7 linked regions of the Homo sapiens genome follow. The protein of the gene in region 7 purifies or fractionates together with the protein of the main gene of each other region. This does not show direct contact. Each region holds a gene or a part of one and is shown on either strand. Other genes may lie near its edges.

What was found.
Region 1: the proteins of SLC9A7 (region 7) and TMEM33 purify together in Homo sapiens (affinity purification with mass spectrometry; one large-scale study listed by BioGRID and IntAct). This does not show direct contact.
Region 2: the proteins of SLC9A7 (region 7) and SCAMP5 purify together in Homo sapiens (co-immunoprecipitation; one study listed by IntAct). This does not show direct contact.
Region 3: the proteins of SLC9A7 (region 7) and TPCN2 fractionate together in Homo sapiens (co-fractionation; one large-scale study listed by BioGRID). This does not show direct contact.
Region 4: the proteins of SLC9A7 (region 7) and TMEM131L purify together in Homo sapiens (affinity purification with mass spectrometry; one large-scale study listed by BioGRID and IntAct). This does not show direct contact.
Region 5: the proteins of SLC9A7 (region 7) and SNX14 purify together in Homo sapiens (affinity purification with mass spectrometry; one large-scale study listed by BioGRID and IntAct). This does not show direct contact.
Region 6: the proteins of SLC9A7 (region 7) and DNAJB12 purify together in Homo sapiens (affinity purification with mass spectrometry; one large-scale study listed by BioGRID and IntAct). This does not show direct contact.

What each region holds. Positions count from the first base shown.
Region 1 is NC_000004.12:41,938,429-41,941,928, reverse strand, and holds part of TMEM33 (transmembrane protein 33), read right to left. Parts: intron 3,328-3,500; coding exon 3,233-3,327; intron 2,734-3,232; coding exon 2,546-2,733; intron 1-2,545. UniProt on the Homo sapiens protein: Acts as a regulator of the tubular endoplasmic reticulum (ER) network by modulating intracellular calcium homeostasis. Mechanistically, stimulates PKD2 calcium-dependent activity. Suppresses the RTN3/4-induced formation of the ER tubules.
Region 2 is NC_000015.10:75,002,063-75,005,562, forward strand, and holds part of SCAMP5 (secretory carrier-associated membrane protein 5), read left to right. Parts: intron 1-3,500. UniProt on the Homo sapiens protein: Required for the calcium-dependent exocytosis of signal sequence-containing cytokines such as CCL5. Probably acts in cooperation with the SNARE machinery.
Region 3 is NC_000011.10:69,069,432-69,072,931, reverse strand, and holds part of TPCN2 (two pore channel protein 2), read right to left. Parts: intron 2,503-3,500; coding exon 2,437-2,502; intron 1,577-2,436; coding exon 1,512-1,576; intron 1,010-1,511; coding exon 909-1,009; intron 306-908; coding exon 224-305; intron 18-223; coding exon 1-17. UniProt on the Homo sapiens protein: Intracellular channel initially characterized as a non-selective Ca(2+)-permeable channel activated by NAADP (nicotinic acid adenine dinucleotide phosphate), it is also a highly-selective Na(+) channel activated directly by PI(3,5)P2 (phosphatidylinositol 3,5-bisphosphate).
Region 4 is NC_000004.12:153,633,786-153,637,211, reverse strand, and holds the end of TMEM131L (transmembrane protein 131-like isoform 1 precursor), read right to left. Parts: intron 3,021-3,426; coding exon 2,932-3,020; intron 1,781-2,931; coding exon 1,641-1,780; intron 912-1,640; coding exon 636-911; 3' UTR 501-635; downstream 1-500.
Region 5 is NC_000006.12:85,506,859-85,510,358, forward strand, and holds part of SNX14 (sorting nexin-14), read right to left. Parts: intron 1,959-3,500; coding exon of another isoform or gene 1,912-1,958; exon of another isoform or gene 1,462-1,911; intron 1,456-1,461; coding exon of another isoform or gene 1,418-1,455; exon of another isoform or gene 1,202-1,417; coding exon 1,110-1,201; intron 432-1,109; coding exon 375-431; intron 1-374. UniProt on the Homo sapiens protein: Plays a role in maintaining normal neuronal excitability and synaptic transmission. May be involved in several stages of intracellular trafficking. Required for autophagosome clearance, possibly by mediating the fusion of lysosomes with autophagosomes.
Region 6 is NC_000010.11:72,335,142-72,337,919, reverse strand, and holds part of DNAJB12 (dnaJ homolog subfamily B member 12), read left to right. Parts: intron 1-1,223; coding exon 1,224-1,396; intron 1,397-1,988; coding exon 1,989-2,110; 3' UTR 2,111-2,140; exon of another isoform or gene 2,141-2,778. UniProt on the Homo sapiens protein: Acts as a co-chaperone with HSPA8/Hsc70; required to promote protein folding and trafficking, prevent aggregation of client proteins, and promote unfolded proteins to endoplasmic reticulum-associated degradation (ERAD) pathway.
Region 7 is NC_000023.11:46,752,619-46,756,118, reverse strand, and holds part of SLC9A7 (sodium/hydrogen exchanger 7), read left to right. Parts: intron 1-3,500. UniProt on the Homo sapiens protein: Golgi Na(+), K(+)/(H+) antiporter. Mediates the electoneutral influx of Na(+) or K(+) in exchange for H(+). May contribute to the regulation of Golgi apparatus volume and pH.

The sequences.
Region 1 (3,500 bases), on a different chromosome or scaffold from region 7:
AGATTCATAATCTTAGTCTTCAACATTACTCTTAAACTATTAATACAATGTATTTAGAAAAGATAAGAGGTGAAATGCCCTATCTGTTATTAATCAAGCAAGGACAAAATATCACTTTTATAAGAAGAAGGATCAGAACGCAAATCTGTAATATTACTTTGGGCCCGCTTTTATTTATTACCATATCACTTTAATAATCAGATTAGCATTTGCTGCCAATTACTAGTTTATGTTATTCCCACTGTTTACTACATTCCCTTTGTAAGAATTTAAGGAATATGAAATCCTTAATCTTCAACATTCCCAGGAAAGAGGGGCTACCAAATAACCAACTGTATAAAAAGGCAGAAAGGTTTTCTTCACCAGTCATGAGTCTCATTTGGCAAGACCTCAGGATTCACTCAACAAAACTTACTGAGTGCCTGATCTGTGTGAGGCACTGTTCCCAAAGTTATTGACGTATTCAGTTTACCCTACATTGAAACACATTTTCTGTCATTTCTATTTCTCCCTCCAAAGAAATTTTAAGCTACTAAAAGGCATGACCAAAAATCTCTACATAACTTCCCGTTATAGCTCAGAAAGGCTAGAATTTTAACATTGGTGACTGCAAAGCACTTCAATCAACAGAGGCTGGTCAAGCCAATAATATGCCAAACAAATGTGATTATCATTTACAGTTGTAGTATAGTAATCATTTAATGAGTTTTACCTAAAAATAAACCAATACAAATTATGATGGGACATTACAGACTCATGCATTGAAACAGGAAAAATTTTATCCTTACATTTCAAACTACCCACATTATCTCAGTGAAGTGAGTAATTTAAAGGGAATCTCCATATACTGAATATTTAAATGAAATTACCAGGTTTACCCACATACAGAAAGAAATATTTTTAATGTATACTTAAGTATTACTCACCCACTAACTGTAGATAAGGTAGAGCTTTTAAGTTAGAAAGACTTTTTCAGCATTACTACTTACTAGCCAATGTGTGGGAAGTGAATACTGACAATCAGCAAATCAGCATCTTTATTAAAAATATACCACAACAATTTTTTTCAGAGTGCTACAAAGATTAAATGTCAAGTTCTTTTTTTTTTTTTTTTTTTTTTTGAGAAGGAGTCTCGCTCTGTCGCCCAGGCTAGAGTGCAGTGGCACAATCTCAGTTCACTGCAACCTCCACTCCAGGGTTCAAACGATTCTCCTGCCTCAGCCTCCCGAGCAGCTGGGACTACAGGCACATGCCACCATGCCCAGCTAATTTTTTGTATTTTTAGTAGAGATGGGGTTTCGCCATATTAGCCAGGATGGTCTCAATCTCCTGACCTCATGATCCGCCCACCTCAGCCTCCCAAAGTGCCACCGCACGTGAGCCACCGCGCCTGGCCTAAATTCAAGTTCTTATACTGGCAAAATAGGTGCTCAGGAAATTTCGGTTTCCTCCTATTTCTTTTCCTTAAGACTTATAAAAATCTATTTAAAAATTTGATACTTCATGAGCATAGGTATCTAAATAGGTAATATTCAGTCTCAGAGGAATATTTTATTGTGCTTTACATAACATACAGATGTATCATAAATATTCAAAAGCTCTTAGACCAGCACTTCTCAATGCACAAAATGATTTGCAGAGATAATCTACAGGAAAAAAAACAACCACAAATTTAAGTTTAAAAAACCCTACTAACTCTCTTAGTTTCACAACACACGTTAGAATACCAAAGCCACTATAGTAAAGAACCCTATTTAAAAATGTTTGACCTGGCTGGGCGTGATGGCTCACGCCTATAATCCCAGCACTTTGGGAGGCAGAGGCAGGTGGCCTGGGCAACAGAGCAAGACTCTGTCTCAAAAAAAAAAAAAAAAAAAAAAAAGAAAGTTTAACCTAGTGTTCACTATAGAACCTCTTCCCCATTTTTCCCCTCCTTTATGGACTACCCAGTATCATCCCACAACACACCTTTGAAATGTGAAAACATACAAATTCCAAATGAATTATTTCTCATTAGCTTCACGGATTATCCATGTGTGTCCTTATTTTCTACTCTATACACAGCAAATATTAATTTCTTTGTATTGATTATCTCATTACCTGCTTAAATAAGTTGTTTCTTGGTTAAATTCCATTTGTATCTAGTTCACTGGGGTTAAGATGGAAAGAGCTGAGGACCTCTCTTTTTTAAAGCAAGACATCTGGACACTTTGCCAAAAACGTGAATTAAATGAAAAAAATGTAAATATTAAAGTAAGTTCTGCGTAAGGTTGTGCTTCGAAGGGGAATTTGAAAATATCCATTCTAATAGGGAAGCTTACAAGAGGCAAGAACAAAGATAGTTTAAAATTCCTAAATCAGCTCTTCAAAGTTTAGATTTCACATTTTAAAGTCAGAAATTCTTACACTAAACATATCTTCATTCAAATGAAGTGCCGAGAACAAACCCAGGCTTCATGGAATGCCTTCATTGCTGAAATAATCAGAAGAGATCTCCTATATGCTTAGTTGGCAATTTCATTGTTAACAAGGTAGAAAAGGATACTTGTAACTGGATAGGAATTTACAAAGATGAGTGAATACAACAGGTAGTGGCAGCTGTCCTCTAACAAAGCCTGGGCCAGGAATGCTCTGCTTAACTGGAAGTGTGGTAATCTTTGATGCAGCCTCAGAGCACTGGTAAGAGCATTTGCCAGCAAAGCACGTTGGTAAAAGCTTGCTGCTTCATGCAACCTGCAAATTACCAGAGGAGAGGTTATCATGAGACATAAACAACTGCAGTGTCTCTTCCTCCTTTGTGAATTGCATCATAATTGCACAACACCTAAATCACTTGTCAATAGAAAAAAATTACATGAACTTATTCTACCGTTTTAATAGCTTCACTTCATATATATGCCCAACTGAATTTCTTATAATCAATTTATAAAATTGAATTTTATAAAGCAGGACCTTCCTGTCAAGTAATAAGTAAAAATGAAAAAAACATGAACTTATCTCATTCCCACACATCAATTTTTCCTTGGATTTTCAATGTGTTAGTTTCACAAAGCACAAGATATAAAATATTCCTCTGATAATGTTATTAGGTTGTTAGTACCTGAAGGCTGGAACTTGTATTTTATTTGTCCCTAAACCCTTTACAGGTTAATAAGTCTTACACCTAAAAGGCACTCCATATAAACTGACTCAACAATTGAATATCAAAGGCAGCAATATGTATAATACATACCCAAGAAGAGGCAGAACAAACAGAGCAGAGCAGTAAACTGTGAACAAGCGAGAAAGCCACATTGCCGTGTCCAGTTTATTGGTCATCATGAATTGCTAAATTTAAAAAGAAAAATACTGTAAGCTATGCCTGCAAATCATGTTTTTAAGCATCAAGACTGTGTGGTTTTTATGTCTACTCAAAATATTTTAATCTTCCTCCATTTGTTTTTTTAGATCATTAGGTGAAAACTCTAAGGCAATTACATGTTTCATGTATATGCTTAATG
Region 2 (3,500 bases), on a different chromosome or scaffold from region 7:
ACCACCGCACTCCAGGCTGGGCAATAGAGTGAGACCCTGTCTCAAATAAAAAATAAAACAAAATTGAATGCCTGTGAAAATAAAATAATAAAACAGAAAATTGAAGCAGACATCCAAGATGCTCTCACTGCCCATCTAAGACCTCAAACCTGCCTGCATCTGCTTGGATCCTGTTCGGCTTCCCACCTGTTAGGATCAAGGCTTGTCCACCTCCTTGCACTGGTGCCCCTGTGTCTCCCTCTTCACGGGCTTTGTCTATCAGGTAACATCTGTCTCTACTGTAATTGCAACCTTTCTATGTATCCTACACATCTCTGGCTTATTTCCACCTAAAATGACCCCCAGCTGCAGCCCTCCCTGGGCCCTCTCCCTACCCCCATATCCTACCCAGGTGGTACCCTATCTCTATTCTCTCTGTATATTGTCAGCCAGGCTTCTTTATCACTGCTGTCACCACCAAAACGATTCTTGCTGGATTCACAGCTGACTCGATGCTGTTAGTGTCATGAACGCGTTAGTCCCGGTAGTGCCATCCTTTCACATGGGAGCCCTCAGTGGCATTATCACATTTGTCCAATCTCTGCCCCTGGCTATGGAGACTCCACGCTCTCTGGGCTTTCCTCGTGTCTCATCAGCTGCTCCTTCTCATTCTTCCCCAACTATCCTATTCTGCTTGCCTTTTTTTTTTCTGCTTAACTTTCTTGACTTTTTATTTTTTTGAATAGGTAGTGCATTTATATATGATTTACAGTTCACAAAGATGTTCCAAATTTTGTCAGTTCTAAGATGAACATTTTGATATTTCTGAAAACATTTTCATGTCTGTGTTTTAAAATTTCTGGCATCTTACAGTTACAAATTGGCATTTTTATTTTTATTTTTTGGAGATTGAGTCTGGCTCTGTCACTCAGGCTAGAGTGCAGTGTGGCACGATCTCAGCTCACTGCAACCTCTGCCTCCTGGGCTCAAGCGATTCTCCTGCCTCAGCCTCCTGTGTAGCTGGGATTACAGGCGCACGCCGTCACACCCGGCTTATTTTTAGTAGAGACAGAGTTTCACTGTGTTGGCCAGGCTGGTCTCGAACTCCTGACCTCAAGTGATCCGTCCATCTCGGCCTCTCAAAGTGCTGGGATTACAGGCGTGAGCCATGGTGCCCAGCCTGCAAATTGGCAATGTTTTTTCTTACTTTTGGTCAATAAAATAATGGTCTGTCTTAAAACTGATGATGTCATCAATTATATGGAAATGGTATAAAGTTATATAGTAAATATTCTGCTTCCCACCTACTCTATATCCATTCAGTTCCTTTGTTCCCCAGAGAGCCACAATTACCATATTTTTTTCTTGATATCCTTCCAGAGATTCTTTGTGCATATATTGTCAAATACAGATATGTATATTTCCCCCCACTTTTTATTTTGAAAAATTTCAAAGCTACAAAAAAGTTTAAAGAATAGGGCAATGGGCTGGGCACAGTGACCTCATGCCTGTAATCTCAGCACGTTGGGAAGCCAGGGCGGGTAGATCGCTTGAGCCCAGGGGTTTGAGAACAGCTTGGGCAATGTAGCGAGACCTCGTCTCTACAAAAAATAAAAAAATTAGCTGGGCATGGTGGCGCACACCTGTATTCCCAGCTACTTGGGAAGCTGAGGTGGGAGGATTGCTTGAGCCCAGGAGTTCGAGGCTGCAGTGAGCTATGATTGCACCGCTGCACTCCAGCCTGGGTGACAAAGTGAGACCCTATCTAAAATAAATAAATAAATAAAATAATGCAGTGAACAACTGTATACCCTTCTCCCATCAATTATTAACATTTTGCAACATTTGCTTTATCTTTTATTTTTACTTTTTTTTTTTTTGAGATGGAGTTTCGCTCTTGTTGCCCAGGCTGCAGAGCAATGGCGTGATCTCCGCTCACCGCAACCTCCGCTTCCGGGGTTCAAGCGATTCTCCTGCGTCAGCCTCCTGAGTAGCTGGGATTACAGGCATGCACCACCATGCCCGGCTAATTTTGTATTTTTAATAGAGACAGGGTTTCTCCATGTTGGTCAGGCTGGTCTTGAACTCCCGACCTCAGGTGATCCGCCCGCCTCGGTCTCCCAAAGTGCTGGTATTACAGGCGTGAGCCACCACGTCTGGCCTATTTTTACTTTTTAGAGACAGGATCTTGCGTTATTGCTCACTGAAGGCTCGAACACCTGGGCACAAGTGATCATCTTGCCTTAGCTCCTCATGTAGCTGAGACTACAGGCACACACCACCATGCTTGTTTCTGCTTTATGTATATGTATAAAATTTTTTCGCAGAACCGTTTGAAAGGACGTTACAGACCAGACACTGCTTCTAAAGACCAGCGTGTGTCTTCTAAGAACAAAGGTGTTCTACAGGCCGGCATGGTGGCTCACGCCTGTAATCCCAGCACTTTGGGAGGCCAAGGCGGGTGGATCTCTTAAGCCCAGAACTTCAAGATCAGCCTAGGCAACATGGCGAAACCTTCTCTCTGCAAAAAATACAAAAATTAGCTGGGCATGATGGCACACACCTGTAGTCCCAGCTACTCAGGAGACTGAGACTGGAGGATCTCTTGAGCCTGGGAGGTTGAGACTGCAGTGAGCTGTGATTGTGCTGCTGCACTCCTCCAGCCTGGGTGACAGAGTGAGACCCTGTCTCAAAAAAAAAAAAAGAAAGAGAGAAAGAAACAAAAACATGCACACATACAATACCCAAGAAATTTAATAGTGAATAGTAGTATCTACTATGCAGCCTATATTCAAGTTTCTCTAGTTGTCCTAAAAATGTCCTTTATAGCTGTGATTTTAAAATCCAGGACCTGGTTGGGCGCGGTGGCTCACGCCTGTAATCCCAGTACTTTGGAAGGCGGAGTTGGGCGGATCACGAAGTCAAGAGATGGAGACCATCCTGCCCAACATGGTGAAACCCAGTCTCTACTAAAAATACAAAAATTAGCTGGGTGTGGTGGCGTGCGCCTGTAGTCCCAGCTACTTGGGAGGCTGAGGCAGGAGAATCGCTTAAATCTGGGAGGCAGAGCTTGCAGTGAGCCGAGATCGTGCCACTGCACTCCAGCCTGGGTGACAGAGTGAGGCTCTTGTCTCAAAAAAAAAAAAATCCAAGATCCGGGCCTGTAATCCCAGCACTTTGGGAGGCCAATGCAGGCAGATCACCTGAGGTCGGGAGTTTGAGACCAGCCTGACCAACATGGAGAAACGCCATCTCTACTAAAACTACAAAATTAGCTGGGCGTGGTGGTGCATGCCTGTAATCCCAGCTACTCCAGGCTGAGGCAGGAGAATCGCTTGAACTTGGGAGGCGGAGGTTGCGGCGAGCCACGATTGCACCATTGCACTCCATCCTAGGCAATAAGAGCGAAACTCCGTTTCAAAAAAAAAAAAAAAAATTCTGCCAGGCTTCCCCATTGCATTTGGTTGCATGCCTCTTTTGTCTCCATTAATTTAGATAAATTCCCCCTGCCAATTTCTGTC
Region 3 (3,500 bases), on a different chromosome or scaffold from region 7:
CCATAGGAACGCACCTTCTGCACAGGAAGGAGCACAGGTCAGCAGGGGCGCACGGGAAGGTGAGCGCCCTCGAAGGTGAGCGCCCCCAGCCCCAACCCCACCCTGACGGGCTGTGAATGCTGCAGGTGACCTGAAGCCACACCCCTAGTCCTGAAAAGGGGCTGCTGGCCCAAGTGACCTCCCGGGAGGAGCCCAGAGGAGGCTGGGAGCAGGGGGCGGGTACCTCCATCATGGCCTGTTTGTGGGAGCTGTCCAGCTGGACCTTCTGAAGCACCTGCAGCAAGTTCTGGGGCTTCACCCCAACTCTGCAGGGAAAAACCCACAGCCCGGTGAGCACAGCCAGCTCGGCTCCCTTGGAACCCTGGCCTGGGTCCTCCTGCCCTGGCGTCTGGCTTGAGCTTTGCCATGAAGCCACTTTGCAGCTTGAGCCACACCAAGAGCCCCTGTAACGAGCATCCTGCCACTGCCGTCCCCCCGAGAAGGCGCAAACTGACTTCACCACTATGAGCAGTCAGGACCAGAACTTTCCACTGCAATGTCCCTCAAGCTCTCTGCCCTCATTTCCAAGCAGGATGGTGGTGTGGACACCTGGCCCACGCACCTCTGGCTCTGCTGCCTAAGTCAGCACAGAAGGGTAGAAGAGCACAAAGGGGGACAAGAAGGCCGGGCCACTCGGCCCTTCACCAGCCCAGGGTCCCCGGGGGGCACGAAGACAAAGGCATGGACTCAGGACAAGGACGCCGGGAACCACAGAGCGCCAGGGACATGGTGGTTTCCATGAGTCGGGTGCCAGCCAGCAGGGGCGAGGCACAGGCCAAGCACAAGAAGCCCCTAATGAACACCCGGCCCCTGCCCAGCAGCCACAGCACCCACCCTCAGGGAGAAGAGGGTCCATGCCCAGCACTCACGCCTGAGGGAAGGCTCCTCCCTCCCCCACCATGGAGGATAGGACTTCAAAGGCAGCCCGGGTTCCCAGCCGCCTCCGAAACAGCGAGGTCTGGAGAGATTTCTGCAAAGAGGAAGGCTATGAACGGCAGGATCAGCCCTCCCCCAGCTCAGAACCCCCGACCCTTCCCTCCCCTGGGGAACAGGCAGAGGGGGAGTCTGGGCAGCCTTGGGGGGGGGCCCAGTTCCCCACAGCCTGGGGGCAGCCCCTCACCCCCCAGGAATGAGAGGATTGGTCAGACTCCCGGGACAGGCCGCACAGGAAGGAGTCTGACGGGCGTGCTGCGCAATATGCTGGGCCGCGTTTCTCCTCTGTGTGTTGGGGGCGCCCCCAGCTCCCCCTCAAGAGGGTTTAGGGTCTGCTGTCCTGGGAGTTGCCATCTCTGGCAGTGGCTAGAGCAACAACACATGTGCATCCCCGGCTGATCCACAAGAGGTGGCAACCCTGCCCTCCCGTCCCACCAGGGGCCTGGCCAGCAAGGGTCACCCAGCTGCTCATCTCAAGCCACACCCTGCTTGGCCTCCCGGCAGCTCCAGGCACAGCCAGCATTGGGGAGCTCGCTCACCATCAGGTAGCCCCGGAACTGACTGTAGATGATGGCTGTCAGCAGGTTCATCAGAAACAGGCTTCCTTCAAGAGGAGACAGCCACGGTCAGGGGCGCCACCAGTACAGCAGCAAAACCAACGCAAGGGTGGCCGGCACAGGATAGCACAGCGCCGGGGGCGTCCCCTATCAAATGGAAACATGGCCTGGCCAGCGCAGTCACAGGTGGGAGGATGACGAGGTCAATGGTGGGGACAGAACAGAAAGTGTGGGGTGGGGGATCCCTGGGGTGAAGCTGTTGGTGGGGGATCCCTGGGGTGAAGCTGTTGGTGGGGGATCCCTGGGGTGAAGCCGTGGCATGGGGGATCCCTGGGGTGAAGCTGTTGGTGGGGGATCCCTGGGGTGAAGCTGTTGGTGGGGGATCCCCGGGGTGAAGCTGTTGGTGGGGGATCCCTGGGGTGAACCTGTTGGCGGGGGATCCCTGGGGTGAAGCCGTGGGGTGGGGGATCCCTGGGGTGAAGCTGTTGGTGAGGGATCCCTGGGGTGAAGCTGTTGGTGGGGGATCCCTGGGGTGAAGCTGTTGGTGAGGGATCCCTGGGGTGAAGCTGCTGGTGGGAGATCCCTGGGGTGAAGCTGTTGGTGGGGGATCCCTCGGGTGAAGCTGTTGGTGGGGGATCTCTGGGGTGAAGCTGTTGGTGGGGGATCCCTGGGGTGAACCTGTTGGCGGGAGATCCCTGGGGTGAAGCCGTGGGGTGGGGGATCCCTCGGGTGAAGCTGTTGGTGGGGGATCTCTGGGGTTAAAAGCTGTTGGCAGGGGATCCCTGGGGTGATCTCTGGAGTGAAAAACACGGATGTGAAGTTTCAGGTCGTGGAGGCAGCAGGGTGTATCGGTCCCTGAGCTCTCGGGATCCTGTCACAAAATGCTGGCCACGTTACCTGCACTCACCTATCACAGTGAAGACTATGAAGAAGATGGCATAGGCCCGGTTCTTGGAATACGCAGGAATCATCACTAAAAGAAAAAAGAAATAACAGAAACTGACAACCTCAGTACCTGATCCCACTCCCATCCTGACGCTACACTATTTGCTTTTGCAATAGAAAGGAGGTCTCCATTGCTGAGCGTGGTGGCTCACGCCTGTAATCCCAGCACTTTGGGAGGCTGAGGCGGGTGGATCACTTGAGGTCAGGAATTCCGAGACCAGCCTGGCCAACATAGTAAAACTCCATCTCTACTAAAAATACAAAAATTAGCCAGGTGTGGTGGCTCATGCCTGTAAACCCAGCTACTCGGGAGGCTGAGGCAGGAGAATCACTTGAACCTGGGAGGTGGAGGTTGCAGTGAACCGAGACTGCACCACTGCACTCCAGTCTGGGTGACAGAGCATGGCACCATCTCAAACAAAAAAAAAAAAGAAAGAAAGAAAAAAAGAAAGAAAAGGAAAAAAAAGAAAGGAGGTCTCCTGGGAGGGCTGAAAGGCCTTCCTGTCCAAATTCGATCTCTTGCCTCTGCTCGCACACCCTCCAGGACGGGGAACTCCCTACCTATCAAGGATGTCCCTCTGCACACAGAGCTGAAACCTCCCTGCAGCCCTCCCCACAGTCAGTCCTGCTCCCCCTGCAGTCACTTCCTAGGACTCAGACGGTCCTGCTCCCAGTGCGGTCACTTCCTAGGACTCAGACGGTCCTGCTCCCAGTGCGGTCACTTCCTAGGACTCAGACGGTCCTGCTCCCAGTGCGGTCACTTCCTAGGACTCAGACGGTCCTGCTCCCACTGCGGTCACTTCCTAGGACTCAGACGGTCCTGCTCCCACTGCGGTCACTTCCTAGGACTCAGACGGTCCTGCTCCCAGTGCGGTCACTTCCTAGGACTCAGACGGTCCTGCTCCCAGTGCGGTCACTTCCTAGGACTCAGACGGTCCTGCTCCCACTGCGGTAACTTCCTAGGACTCAGACGGTCCTGCTCCCAGTGCGGTCACTTCCTAGGACTCAGACGGTCCTGCTCCCACT
Region 4 (3,426 bases), on a different chromosome or scaffold from region 7:
CAGCAGTTCTCAACGGCTGAGCAACTTCATTTTTTGAAAGCTCCCCAGATGGTTGTGATGCTCAGGAGGAGGAAAACCATAGCAGCCATTTCTTGCTCAACTCCTACCTTCTTAGAAGTCTCCCTTGTTCAGGAGTTCGAGACCAGCCTGACCAACAGGGTGAAACCTCGTCTCTACTGAAAATCTCTATTAACTGGACGTGGTGGCACACGTGCGCCTGTAATCCCAGCTACTCAGGAGGCTGAGGCAGGAGAATTGCTTGAACCCAGGAGGCAGAGGTTGCAGTGAGCCAAGATCGCACCACTGCACTCTAGCCTGGGCGACAGAGCGAGACTCTGTCTCAAAAAAAAAAAAAAAAAAAAAAAAAAGACGTCTCCCGTGTTCAGATTTAAAACATTCGGCATGCCTGACACACTTCTTGACTTTTGAAAGTTCTGACATATGGATGCTTTGTTTTTACCACTGATTTATGAAGAGTTAAAAAAAACAGAGCACCCAGATTTCATTAAAAAATTTATTTTCATATAAAAGTGCCAAAATATCCACCAATGTCATAATCTATCTCAATAACCAGTTTACACTAGTAATCAAAACACAAGCCTCTTTATTCACATTGTTTAAAAATCCAATTATTTTCACACATTCCCACAGTAACTCGAGTCTCTAGACAGTGGGAAATTTGCATTCCTATTCGCTGTGGTAGTCCATATGTCCAGGTTCATATAGGCGCGAAACGGGTTGAACCCCGGGTAGTATTCCTTGCACACGACCGCTTGGTTTTCCATGTGGGTCGAATGTTCCGTGGTGGGGTTGATGGGGCAGCAATTTTCATACACATCGCTTTGCGGGGCCCAGATGGAACCAAAAAGTCCAGACATTGGAGACAAGCTTCGGGTGCTTGTGAGGTAGGGCTGAAGTATAAATGAGGAAGGAAAAATAAGTTAAAAGAAAAAAAAAAGCCTTAGAAAGGTGAATACACATCAGCGAATACTACAATGCTATCAAGTTACTTGGAAGTTATTAGACTACTCTCAATTTAAATCTGGGTTGCTTTAACTCCATTTTTTCTCAAAGGGAGGATTGTGAAATCCTCATCTAATGGGATGAACTTATTTGCAACCCGGGGAAGAACCCACAGGCCAAATACCCTTTATCTGGAAAAAAACAAAAACAAGTGTCAAGCGGATGTGAAAGGAGAAGCCATCGGGCTTCTGAGCAGGGAGGGTGTGCTCACAGGCAGGGAGCTCTGGGACCCTGACCACCCACTGACCTTCCTGGGACTTTCATCTCGTATCGGTGAAGTAAAGATCAGTGAGTCCACATAAAGACAGCTGTGTCACACAGAGGGCTGGCCCATGTTCAATTTTATCTACAAAGGACCATTGCTTGGTGTGTTTGGGGATGTTTTTCATTTGGGGTGGCCAGAATGTCAATGTCTGCAAGACCCCACCCATCTAATTATTACATGTCAGTTTCCTTCAGAGGGTGGCCAGCCCTGGCTTCTGTGATCTAAAAGAAGCAAGCCAGGCTTTGGCTGGTCCAAACCCAACGCTAAAGCTAGCTGAGACCAGGATTAAGGAAGCAGTGGAAACAATTCAGAGCTGCCCAGGGGTTCACGGCACAGGATGGGCAACACTGACCGGAGAGCTGATGAAACTGGCATGTCCCCAGGCAGCAGGCATGTTGGGTGGGGTGTTCCAGGTAGACTGAGAGTTGTGATCAATAAAGTCTGTCTGAACATCTGCAGGACAGGGGAAGCCATTGGCATAGTTCATGTTTTCTACAAAGAATGGGAGAATATCATCATAGGTAAACATTTTCATTGAGAACTGAATTCTCACTCTCAGGCAAAAAAGCTTTCAAGGTCTCACTATACTGACAAGTTACAGACATAAATACTTGGTCCGTGTGGACCAGGAGAGTCGTTGCAACATCATTCTCAAGATTAAAACTTTTTATCAGACACACAACCTGGGAAGCCCTCAATGTGGAAGGTCTTCCTCCTGGCTTGTTTTTCTCTATTTGATCACTTGATGGGAATCTTTCTATTACACAAAATACATTAAAATACTACTAGATATCTAAATAGTGTCAAGGTTCTTGCCAGTCTTTAAAATGTTTTTATTACCTGTCATGCCAACCTCAGCGACCTACACATATATCATCTGGGCTGATACAGCAATCCAAAACCAAGGACTCCTTAGATACCATTAAGAACATAATGAACACAGACCCTCACAATCATAACATTCCCAAAGCACCCCCTTGTGGTTAGCATGGAGCAATGCATGTATCAAAATCTAGATAAGAATGATACATCCCTTCCCTGAAAGGGCAGCTCTAGTATAAGAAACCATGATCCAACAGTAGTGCACAATAGAGCATTTTCCAGTTGACCAGGGATATCCCATAGCTCTCATTTTTTTATTATTACAGATGCTTGAGCCCAAGCATCTGCAATTTTCCACAATTTCCCCTCCAAGCTTCTTTCCTTCCTTCTGCAGCACCACCCAAGGGCAGAGAAGTTAAGGACATAATAGGAAGCAGGCCAATGTTTCTATTTCACATGGGACTTGACTGCCTAAAAAGAAGAGCGAGCAGCTAAAGCCCCGGCTTCCCAATGGATACCCAACAATGTTACATCTACATGGATCCAAATGACCTAGTTCTACCTAACTGGAAGGACTAAATGGATTAGGGTTATTTTTGAAGCCCCCAGACACCCAAAATTGAGGGCTTTTTGAGGGTCATATAAAATTATATATGGCATCAGTGCACAACTGGATCCACATGAAGCCATTCGGCAGTCTACTGCAAGCTCATTCTCAAAGTCTGCTCGCTGTTAAAAGGATTCTTCTTAGTCCACACACTTCCTGCTTTGACCTTCTAAGAATAAAATAATGGCGTTGGGATTGTCTGAAGAGCCCTTACCTTCTGGAAAGGCATTGTAATCGTTCAATTCCAATGGACAGTATGCGCTGGAAAACTGGCCTTCGCATGTTGCACTCCAATCAATGAAACTGCCACAAAAAACAAGTGGTCTAATCAGAAACAGGATGTCAAGACATCAAGTAAAGAAAATGGAAAATGATTTTACTGCCTAGCATCCTAATCACTGTGAATTCCCCAATTTTGGAAAATAAAAGATGTACTTTCTCAAGTCACAGAATCAAAGGCTTACTAAATGCTGATCACTAGTGACATGCCATCTGCAGGATGGACGGCTGGACTAGGAGCACACTTGTTTTTAACTATGCTTGTTAAGTCTAACTAGAGACAGAATAGAGAGCCGTGGCTTTATCAGCACTGTGAAAGAACAGCTGGAATACCTTTAAGTGTCTTTGTGCACATCTGAAGGACTTAAACATGTTCCATTAAAAACGTCCACTCAGAGCAAGACCAGCATTCATCTTAGACAAGCATAAC
Region 5 (3,500 bases), on a different chromosome or scaffold from region 7:
ATAAAACTTGCTTCAAAAATACTCTAGTTTCTGACTTACACAGCATACAATGGTGCAGACGATAACACTGAGCTTGGCCTATTCTAGTGCTAGGACTTACACTCACTTCTTCCCCTGGAAAGACTATATAGGGTCCCTATCTGCTTGTAATTAAAAAGGGATGAAGTCAAAGCAGAAGCTATTCAATAGCTGTCCCCCAGAATTGTTTGGGCATGTTTAATAAAGAAAATACAAAAGGCAATTTGCTGAGGTTAATTTTTTAAAGAACCACAGAGAACAGAGACAAGGGTTTTCTTACATTTATGTCCCTAATTAAAATAAATGTCAGCATACCATTAAGAAAATCATGAATAAAATTACTGCTTTTCAGTTACCTTATTGAGCTCTGGAAACAGTTCCTGTATCACAATGTCCAATAAAACATAAGTCAGCTAAAGCACCAAAAAATAATAATAATAAATGTTAAGGCACTAAACACAAAAACCATAAAAATGATACACACAAAATTAAAGATTGTGGTTACCTCTAAGTGGGAAGGCAGGGAATGGGACTGATAATATAAAACAAGCACAAAAGTAGCCTCAGTAGTATCAATAATGTTCTATTCTCAAAATAGGTAATAAGTACACATGTGTTTGCATGAGGACACTTTCATTATGCCTCATTAATTCATTTTTATGTTAAATATTTGAATTTTTAGAAAAACAAGAACACAAAATCACAACTGTATTGAGATCTCAACAGAATATATAAAGCTTATACATAGTTTACATAAACCATAAACATAAAAATGTTAACTGGTTATTCTATGTGACTTGAATAATGGAATTATCCATTTTTAATTTTTTACTGTATTTCATGAATTTTCTATGCCAAATTTTCTACAATTACTATATATTAATTTTAAATCAAAATAATTCATCTTATTTAGAAAAAACTGAAACAAAAAGAGTAACTCAAATAAAACTTTTTTTCTATCTGAATGTTTAAAATTATATTGCCTTGGTTTAGTATAGTGTCATTTATACAACTAATGAGTTACCAGACACCTTACTACGTCGTTCACCAAACCTAGCCAGCATGAGTTTACGAGCTTTAATGAGCTTTACCTGCTTGTTGAGTACTGGTTGCTGTAAGCCATCAAACAGAAGTCTGATGCTTTCATACTTGGTTTCTTCACCAATACACTTGACTAACAGATCTAAACAAAAAGGCCAAATGTGAAATAATTTTATATTATAAAGTGACTCACCATTAACTGGATCATAAAGCAAAATCACCACCCTGTTTCCCAGATACTAGGCAAAAACTGCAAATCAATACTCCCCAAACCAGTGTTTCTATAAGAGGCTCCTGGATAAGAGGTTTCTATGGTCAAGTTGACAAATGCAGTATCATGTATCCCATTTTTGGAGATTCACAATGCACAAGGCATAATGCAAACTCTGAGAAATGCTGCAGTAAAAAAAAAAAAAAAAAAAATCTGCTAGTTGGAAAATAATACTTATTGTATTACCCCACTAAGGGAAAACAAAACAAATTAAACCCTAAAATGATGTTTGTACATCTGTACATACATGTATAGAAATGCATGGAAAAATGTAAGGATTAACACCCAATGTAGGATAAGCCGACTTCTACCCAGTGGGCAGAAGATAGCTTCTACTTTTTATTCTATATATTTTCATAGTGCTCTTAATATCAGAAAAAAAAAGTTTAATTTTTAAGGCAGACTTTTCTCAGTGAATAAGAACACCTAATTTCTGGACTTTTGCATAAGTTACTATTAACCATCTTACAAACCAATCATTTTGGGAAATATAACAAATATTTAAACACTTATTTAGGGTCCAACGAGTTCAGATTTGTGTCTGGCTGCATAGATGTCATGTACCACTGATATCAATTCTGTTACCAAGAAAAGTCAATCCTTATTAAGATCTCCACTGAATGCTTCCCTAAGCAGAAAAAAAAGAAGTTATTCTTATATAAACAAGGTACTCAAATATTTATCCTTTTTCCCCTATCATAACTAAACTCCTAGTGTTGGTCATAAAAAATTCTAATGCTAGGAGACAAAGCCAAATTTAATTTACAATAGGCATAGTACATCCTTGGTATTTTCAAGATATGTGGCCCAATACAAATCTTTGTTAATCCTCAAACTCACCAATACTACATGGAATTTCCCAATTAATATGCATGAAACTAATGAACAAATATACGTAATTCTTTCACATCCTTCAGGTGTCACTAAGTAAGAGATGAGGAGCAGAGGATAACACAAAGGAATGGTAAGCTTGCTCAAGAGCTAAGTTACTCTCCCAAACGGGAGTCTTAAAGTGAATGTGGTTTGAATTTGTGCCTCAGCAAAATAACAAATTACTATATTCTCTGGCTCTCCATGTTGTTTCTGAGTATCAAAGCTGAGACTGTTGAAAGTATGAATGCTAAGGGTCATTATATCAGAAAACAGGTAAAAAAAAATTATTTCATCATTTGCCTACAGAAAATTTACTCAAAAACAGCTTATGTTCAGTTTTATATTCAGAGCAGATATTTAAGTTAATTATTTTCACAAGGAAGAGCAGAACTATTCTAAGGCTAGTTCCTCAATATTAAGAATTCTCTAAGGTTCTGTCCTAAGACCTCCTCTTTTTAAAATAAACTTTACTTTTTAAAGTAGTTTTGTGTTCACAATGAAACTGAGCAGAAGGAAGAGATTTCGCATATGTTCCCTGTCTTGTCTCCCCGACTATCAACATCCCCAACAAGAGTGTACATTTGTTACAACTGATAACACACATTGGTACATCATTATTACCCAGAGTCCATAATTTACATTGGAGTTCGTTCTTGGTGTTGTACGTTCTGTGGGTCTGGACAAATAGATGATGATATGTAACCATCATTATAGAGTAGTTTCACTGCCCCAAAAAATCCTCTCTGCTCTGCCTATTCATCCCTCCCTCCCCTCCAATCCACTGTCTTCTTAGTTTTGCCTTTTCCAAAACAGCAGATAGTTGAAAATATACAGTATGCAGTCTTTTCAGATTGGCTTCTTTCTCTTAGTAAGATGAATTTCAGGCTCCTCCATGACTTTTCATGATGTGACAGCTCATTCCTTTATAGCACTGAATAATATCCCATTGTCTAGAAGTATGAGTTTATTTATCCATTCACCTAAATAAAGAACACCTTGGTTGCTTCCAAGTTTTGGCAATTCTGAAGTTGCTATAAACATTCATGTGCAGGTTTCTGGGTGGACATGTTTTCAACTGCTTTGGGTAAATATCAAGAAACATAATTGCCAGATCTCATGGTAAGAGTGTGCTTAGTTTTGTAAGAAACTGCTCACCTGTCTTCCAAAGTGGCTACACCATTTTGCATGCCCACCAGCAATGAATGAGAATTCCACATGTTCACCAGCAAATGGTGGTGTTGGTGTTCTGGATCTGGGCCATTCTAACAGGTGTGTGGTGGTATCTCATTGTTTTAAA
Region 6 (2,778 bases), on a different chromosome or scaffold from region 7:
ACACACAATACATGCACACACATAATACACATGCACACATACACGCACACATATACACACAGAGTTTTGCATATAATTTCGGCGGCTTTGTGACTCTTCCCTGCCCATCTCCCCTGCCAACCCTGACGAAGAACCTCTGCTCCTCGGCTCTGGTTGGGCTTCCTGAGGCTGTGGAAAGAACAGGGCACTAGAGTCAGACAGAGCAAGCATGGCTTAGAATCCCAGCTTCTCCACTAAGAAGCTGTGTGACCCTAAACAAGTTATATAACCTTGGTTTCCTCATCTATAAAATGGGAATTATAACATCCACCTGCTGTGGAAATTAATGAGTAATGCATATAAAATGTCTGGCCCACTAGAAATGCTCAACAATATTAGTTTAATGAATGCTTAGTCTCGACTGCCAGGAGTGAACTTGAGGACATTTCATGAGCCGTTAGGGGGTCAGCTCCCCTCACTGATGTCCAGCACCTGGCCCAGGGTCAGCTACACAGTGGGTGCACATCTTCAGTGGGGTGGGTCCCCCTCTCCCAAAAGGTGGCCACCTCTGGCTGGGAGCTGGCAGGACCCTTCTCAGCCAGCAGGGGGCAGAGTCGGTCCACTGGACCCTGGCCGCCGGCTCAGGCTCCCTGTGGCCAGATGCCAGCCCTTTTCCCTGCAACTGGAGAGATGTGAGGAGCAGAGGACTAGGGCAGGGACTGTTGTCCCCAGAGCACTGGTCCTGTCTGGGTGTCAAGGCTCTTCCCACAGCTGACAGAGCCTGTGATTGGAGCTGGGAGGATAAGGCTCCCTGGAGCCCTTCCTGTCATTTTGTTCCTAAGCCTCTTAACCCTACACTGGGAACTCCTAGATAGGCAGGCAAGCACTCAGCAACAATTGGCTTAGGGGATGAATGGGGAGATGGAGGCACAGAGGCAGAGCCCAGATTCCCTCTCAGGTCTCCAGTTCCCTAGACCAGGCCTCTCCCCAAAGGCCCCAGGTCAGCAGTGTGGTAAGCAGGGATCTAAAGGCAGGGCGTCCTGCGGTCTGGGCCACGTGTGTGGGAGGACGCTGCCTTTTCCTCAGACTCTCCTTTCAGGGAGTGTGCGGGTCCCTGCTCTGGTTTGAGAGGGAACCAACTACTCCTCTGGTCTGTGCGGCACCTCCTGTCTTGGGGCCCATACCCCTAGAGTGCCCTGGGCATGGGGACCCGCACCCACTTTGAACCTGGTATTTCTGGCCAGGTCCGTGGGCCACATCCACAGGCGAGTCACTGACCACCTGGGTGTCGTCTACTATGTGGGAGACACTTTCTCCGAAGAGTACACAGGCTCCAGCCTCAAAACAGTCGAGCGGAATGTGGAAGATGATTATATCGCCAACCTCCGGAACAACTGCTGGAAGGAGAAGCAGCAGAGTGAGTGTGGGGGGAAGGCGGGGGCTGTATTTGGGAGGTGGCTTGGGATGAAGCTGGAAAGCAGGGGAAGGAGAGAGCCCTGCTCACCCTGTGCTCTGAGGGCCCAGCCCCTGGCACTGCCCTGCACCAGCCACCTCCCAGACAAGAGCTGGTCTCCACTCCTGTGTTTCTCCGGGGCTGGGAGCCAGGGGCCACCTGGTAGTTTCCTCAGGTTCCCGTAAATCACTGCCATCAGCCCAGCATGTTGGCTGCCAGAGGTGAGTGTGTAGAGATGGACTGGAGCGGATGGATCCCTGGCCACCCCCTGACTGTGCTCCTGGATCTGTCTGTGGGACCCTGGGGAGGCCTGACCAGGATGACAGGGTCTCACCTTGGCTGGCCTCACTGCATTCTAGAGAAAGGCGCCTCTGTCACCCTCGCCCACATAAGGACTGTAGTCTCTGCTCCTCCATGGTCTTCCTAATGGGAGGCCAGCCCTGCCCAAGCCCCGGGCATGTACCAGCTTTCCTCCGCCCTCCACAGCCCTCGCAGGCTTCCTTGCAGGCTTCGGGAGGTACTGGGTGTGCACTAACCCTGTCCCATTGCTTTGCAGAGGAAGGCTTGCTGTACCGGGCACGCTACTTTGGCGACACAGATATGTACCACAGAGCACAGAAGATGGGCACCCCCAGCTGCAGCCGACTGTCAGAGGTGCAGGCCTCCCTGCATGGATAGTCCTGGGCCAGCCACACCACCGAGGTCCAAGTATGAGCCAGGGCTGCCTCCACCCTGCAACTCCTGGCAGCTTTGGCCCTGGTCATGAGCAGAGGAGGGAGGGGGAGAAAGGGAGGAAGCCTGGTGATTGTGGCAAAGACTCCTGTCCCCAGCCTGACCTCCAGCCTCCAGAGACCGAGCAGCTGTGGGGCCTGCTGGGAAACCAAGGTCGGTTTCCGCCCTCTAGCGATGCTGTCCTCCCCACTCCTCCGCTCTGCTCCCTGGCTCCAGGGGTGTGGGGGACCCCAGAACCAGGCAGAGTGGGAACTTGAAACTGTTGCTGAGGGCCACCCGGGGCTTCTTGGTCCACTCCAGCCATCAGTCAGCACGGCCCTTTCTCCAGCACAGCAGACTATTGTCCGTGCCCTGGTATTTAGGCCATCACATATGGTGGGGCCCAAGAGAGCCCCATATGCACACTGCCTGCCTGATACCAGGAAGAACCATGTGGGAATAGGTGGGCCAAGAGCCCTCCCCTTTCTCCATCCCTCCAGCTAGGAGGAAATGGAGCAAGATGAACAGGCAGCCACGAGGTGGGTGGGAGCTGGCAGTCTTGGTGGCGGCAGGGGCCGCGGGCCCTGACCACCCCCCTCTGGTGGGATCTGAGGCACTCTCTCGAATGCCGTCAC
Region 7 (3,500 bases):
CTTTATTTTGAGAAAAAGTTTTAAAATGTAATTTCTGCCACCTTTTTGTGTTTAAGTGACACTTTAATCTGAGAAGAACAGCGTTTACATTTAAGATAAATTTATATATATATAAATTTATATATTTGTTGGTATAGTCGTAAAATATCTCTGGAAGGACATGCAATAGATGAGTAACATTGGTTTCCTTGGGGGAGAGGAACTAGATGGCTGTGAAATAGGAGTGGGAGGGAGAGGTCACCATATAACCTTGTATGCTTCTTGGTCTTGTAATAGCTTTTTTTTTTTTTTTTTTCCAAGACGGAGTCTCACTCTGTCGCCCAGGCTTGAATGCAGTAGCGCAATCTCGGCTCACTGCAAACTCCACCTCCCGGATTCAAGCAATTCTTCATCTCAGCCTCCTGAGTAGCTGGGATTACAGGCGCCCGCCACCATGCCCGGCTAAATTTTGTATTTTTAGTAGAGATTGGGTTTCACCATCTTGGCCAGGCTGGTCTTGAACTCCTGACCTCCACCCACCTCAGCCTCCCAAAGTGCTGGGATTACAGGTGTGAGCCACCGCACCCGGCTGTAATAGCATTTTAACGTGCTCCTCAAATCACTCAATTTGACGCCTACTTCTCCCTATTTAAATCACATTATGTTATCAATTTTCTTCATGACTTTTCAATTCTTAATTGTGCCCTTGGAGCTTTTCTGAGCCCTGTGTCTGGGATGGAGATAAAATGGGGAAAGGGGAAGAGATTTCTCTCTCTCTCTCCCTCCCTCCCTCCCTCTCTCACCCTCTCTTTCCCACTCGCTCTCTCCCTCTTTTTCCTTCCCTTTATTCCATTATCCTCAGAGAGTAGTCAATGTTACATTAGCAGTGATGTGCACAAATAGACCCCATAATAAGTGCTTGCTTGGATGCAGAGGACCTAAGGAAAATAAAAGACACACTGTGAATGCTTAACGTTTAAACAGAAAGGAACTCCCCCACCCACCAAAGGACACTTATAAGCATTCCTCCCTGACAGGCCAGGGCAGCTACAAGGGAAGGTAGCTACAGACCTAACTCCCCAGGAAGGTTGAAAGCAGCCCCCAGACCCCACCACTGGAGCTGCAAGGCAGCGGGGCCAGGCACTTGCCTGCCACCAGTCTAACCTGTTTTGTCAGGCCAGGGAGCTCCCAGCTGTCTGTCTCTGTTATGTGATTAAGTGCCATCCTAAAGTTACTGGGCCCTACATGTCTTTGCAGCAGAAATAGAAAGTGTTTAGGGCAGGGAAAGTTGGTATAAACAGACTGTGCCAGTTCATTGTGGTTCTCTCTCAGATGTACGGTAGTTCCACTTCCCCCATAATGTTTTTGTGACAACTGATATGGATCCAAAATAATCTGACTCTGCCATGCTAACCCACCACCTGCTTCTCGCTTCCTCCTCCTCCACCACCCCATCACCTTTCCAAAAATATGTTGATCAGCCCCTCTAGGTTCTATGGGTTGTGGGCTCACTGTTGCTGTGGTGGAGCTGGATTGCTAAGCACAGCCTGAGAGTGGGCTCATAGGCAGAGTCTGAAGGGGAAAAAGATGACTCTTTGCGGTAACATGAAATTAACATTTGAACCTGTAAGCAAACATTTTGGAACCATCTCCTTCCTGGTTAATCAGGAGTCCCCCCTTTTAAGAGCCCCTCACTTTGGCCCCAGTTGGGAGCAGCTTCTGTATGGTCTCACTTTGGTACCAGATAACCCTGGGTTCAAATGCTGGCCCTGTTGCTTATAAAACTGTATAGCATTGGATAAACTCTCTGAGCCTTAGCTTCCTCTTTTGGAAAATGGAGATTATGTTACCTCACAGAATTGCTGTGTTATTGAGATATTCTAAAGGGTCAAGTGCAGTGTCTGACACTTAAGCACTTGGTAAATATTAGTTCCCATTCTCATTTTAGGCTTTGTGATTCTTTGGCAGGCTTTACTACTTGAGGTTTGTTCAGTAGTGGACTGTTGTAATTTTAAAATGCATTAGGACACAGTTAGTGGAAGTGAGGAAAATTGTATATTTTGGGGTGAGCTTTTGGTTAATACCTAGAAAAAAATTTACAACACACCTACCCTTTTAAAATTTTATTTATTATTATTATTATTATTATTATTTGAGACAGAGTCTCACTCTGTCGCCCAGGCTGGAGTGCAGTGGTGCGATCTCTGCTCACTGCAAGCTCCGCCTCCTGGGTTCATGCCATTCTCCTGCCTCAGCCTCCAGAGTAGCTGGGACTACAGGCACCCGCCACCATGCCCGGCTAATTCCTTTTTGTATTTTTAGTAGAGACGGGGTTTCACCATGTTAGCCAGGATGGTCTCAGTCTCCTGACCTTGTGATCCGCCCGCCTCAGCCTCCCAAAATGCTGGGATTACAGGCATGAGCCACCGTGCCCGGCCCACACCTACTCTTTTATTCAGCATTTTCAATTCTTGGACTTTCAGAAATCTATCAGAAATACTTGTGCTAGCATGTTGCAATATATAGACAGCAATATTTGTTGCAGTGGACATAAGTTGCAGAACTCATCAGATGAGACTGGTTAAATTGTAGCACATTCCCATTAAGGAATACTATGCAGCGATAAAAAGAGGTGTTTTGAGATGTCCTTTTAAGGCTACTGTCCACACATAATGTTGTGGAAAAAAAGCAAGGCACAGAACATCATGTATAGTATTATTCTATTTGATCTTTCAATAACTATATACTGTATATACACAAACATGATGTATGTAATTTATATATGATATATGTGCTTTTATGGAAGGATATGCAAGCTTTATCCTTTGGGAGCAGGATGAGTTGTTGGGAGAGAGAGAGGGGAGGTGGTACTTTTCCTTTATATTATTCTAAATGGCCTGAACTTTCTTTAATACTGACACATTACTTTTGCAATTTAAACATTATTTAAAAATGAAGCAAATAACTTATGTAGCAAAAAAATGCTTTATAAACAGAAGATTGTACTATGTGGTTACATAGCATTTTCCTTGGATTGTCGAAATGTTCTTTGTAAAGCGGTCTCTGGATATAAAGAATACTTTTACTTATTATTTGAAAGTTATAAATGGAAGTAAAATGTTTGTATCTTAAAAAATAGAAAAATGACATTTACTAAAAGCATTTCTTAGAATATTAAAAAGTTAACCTTTGTGGAACGCTGTAATTAGAAAAATCACAATTTTTCAACCTCTAGTGATAGTTTATTTAGACAAGGGTTTTCAATGAATTCCAGAATCCTAGGTGAAAGGTTATTGGGGAACATGGTACTTGCAAAGTACTATCACCCCACAGGTTACTTGCCTGTTGCAAAGAAAAGAAGGTACCTTTACAGTGAAGAGGTCTGGCAGTCACCATCTTATAAGCAAGTCATCAAATGTATCCTTGCTCATTGTGGGACTATCTAGTATCATGGTATACAGGAAGTGTACAGCTTTACCTATGTAGTATCCTTCCTGTATGTGTTTAATCTGAATCAAATC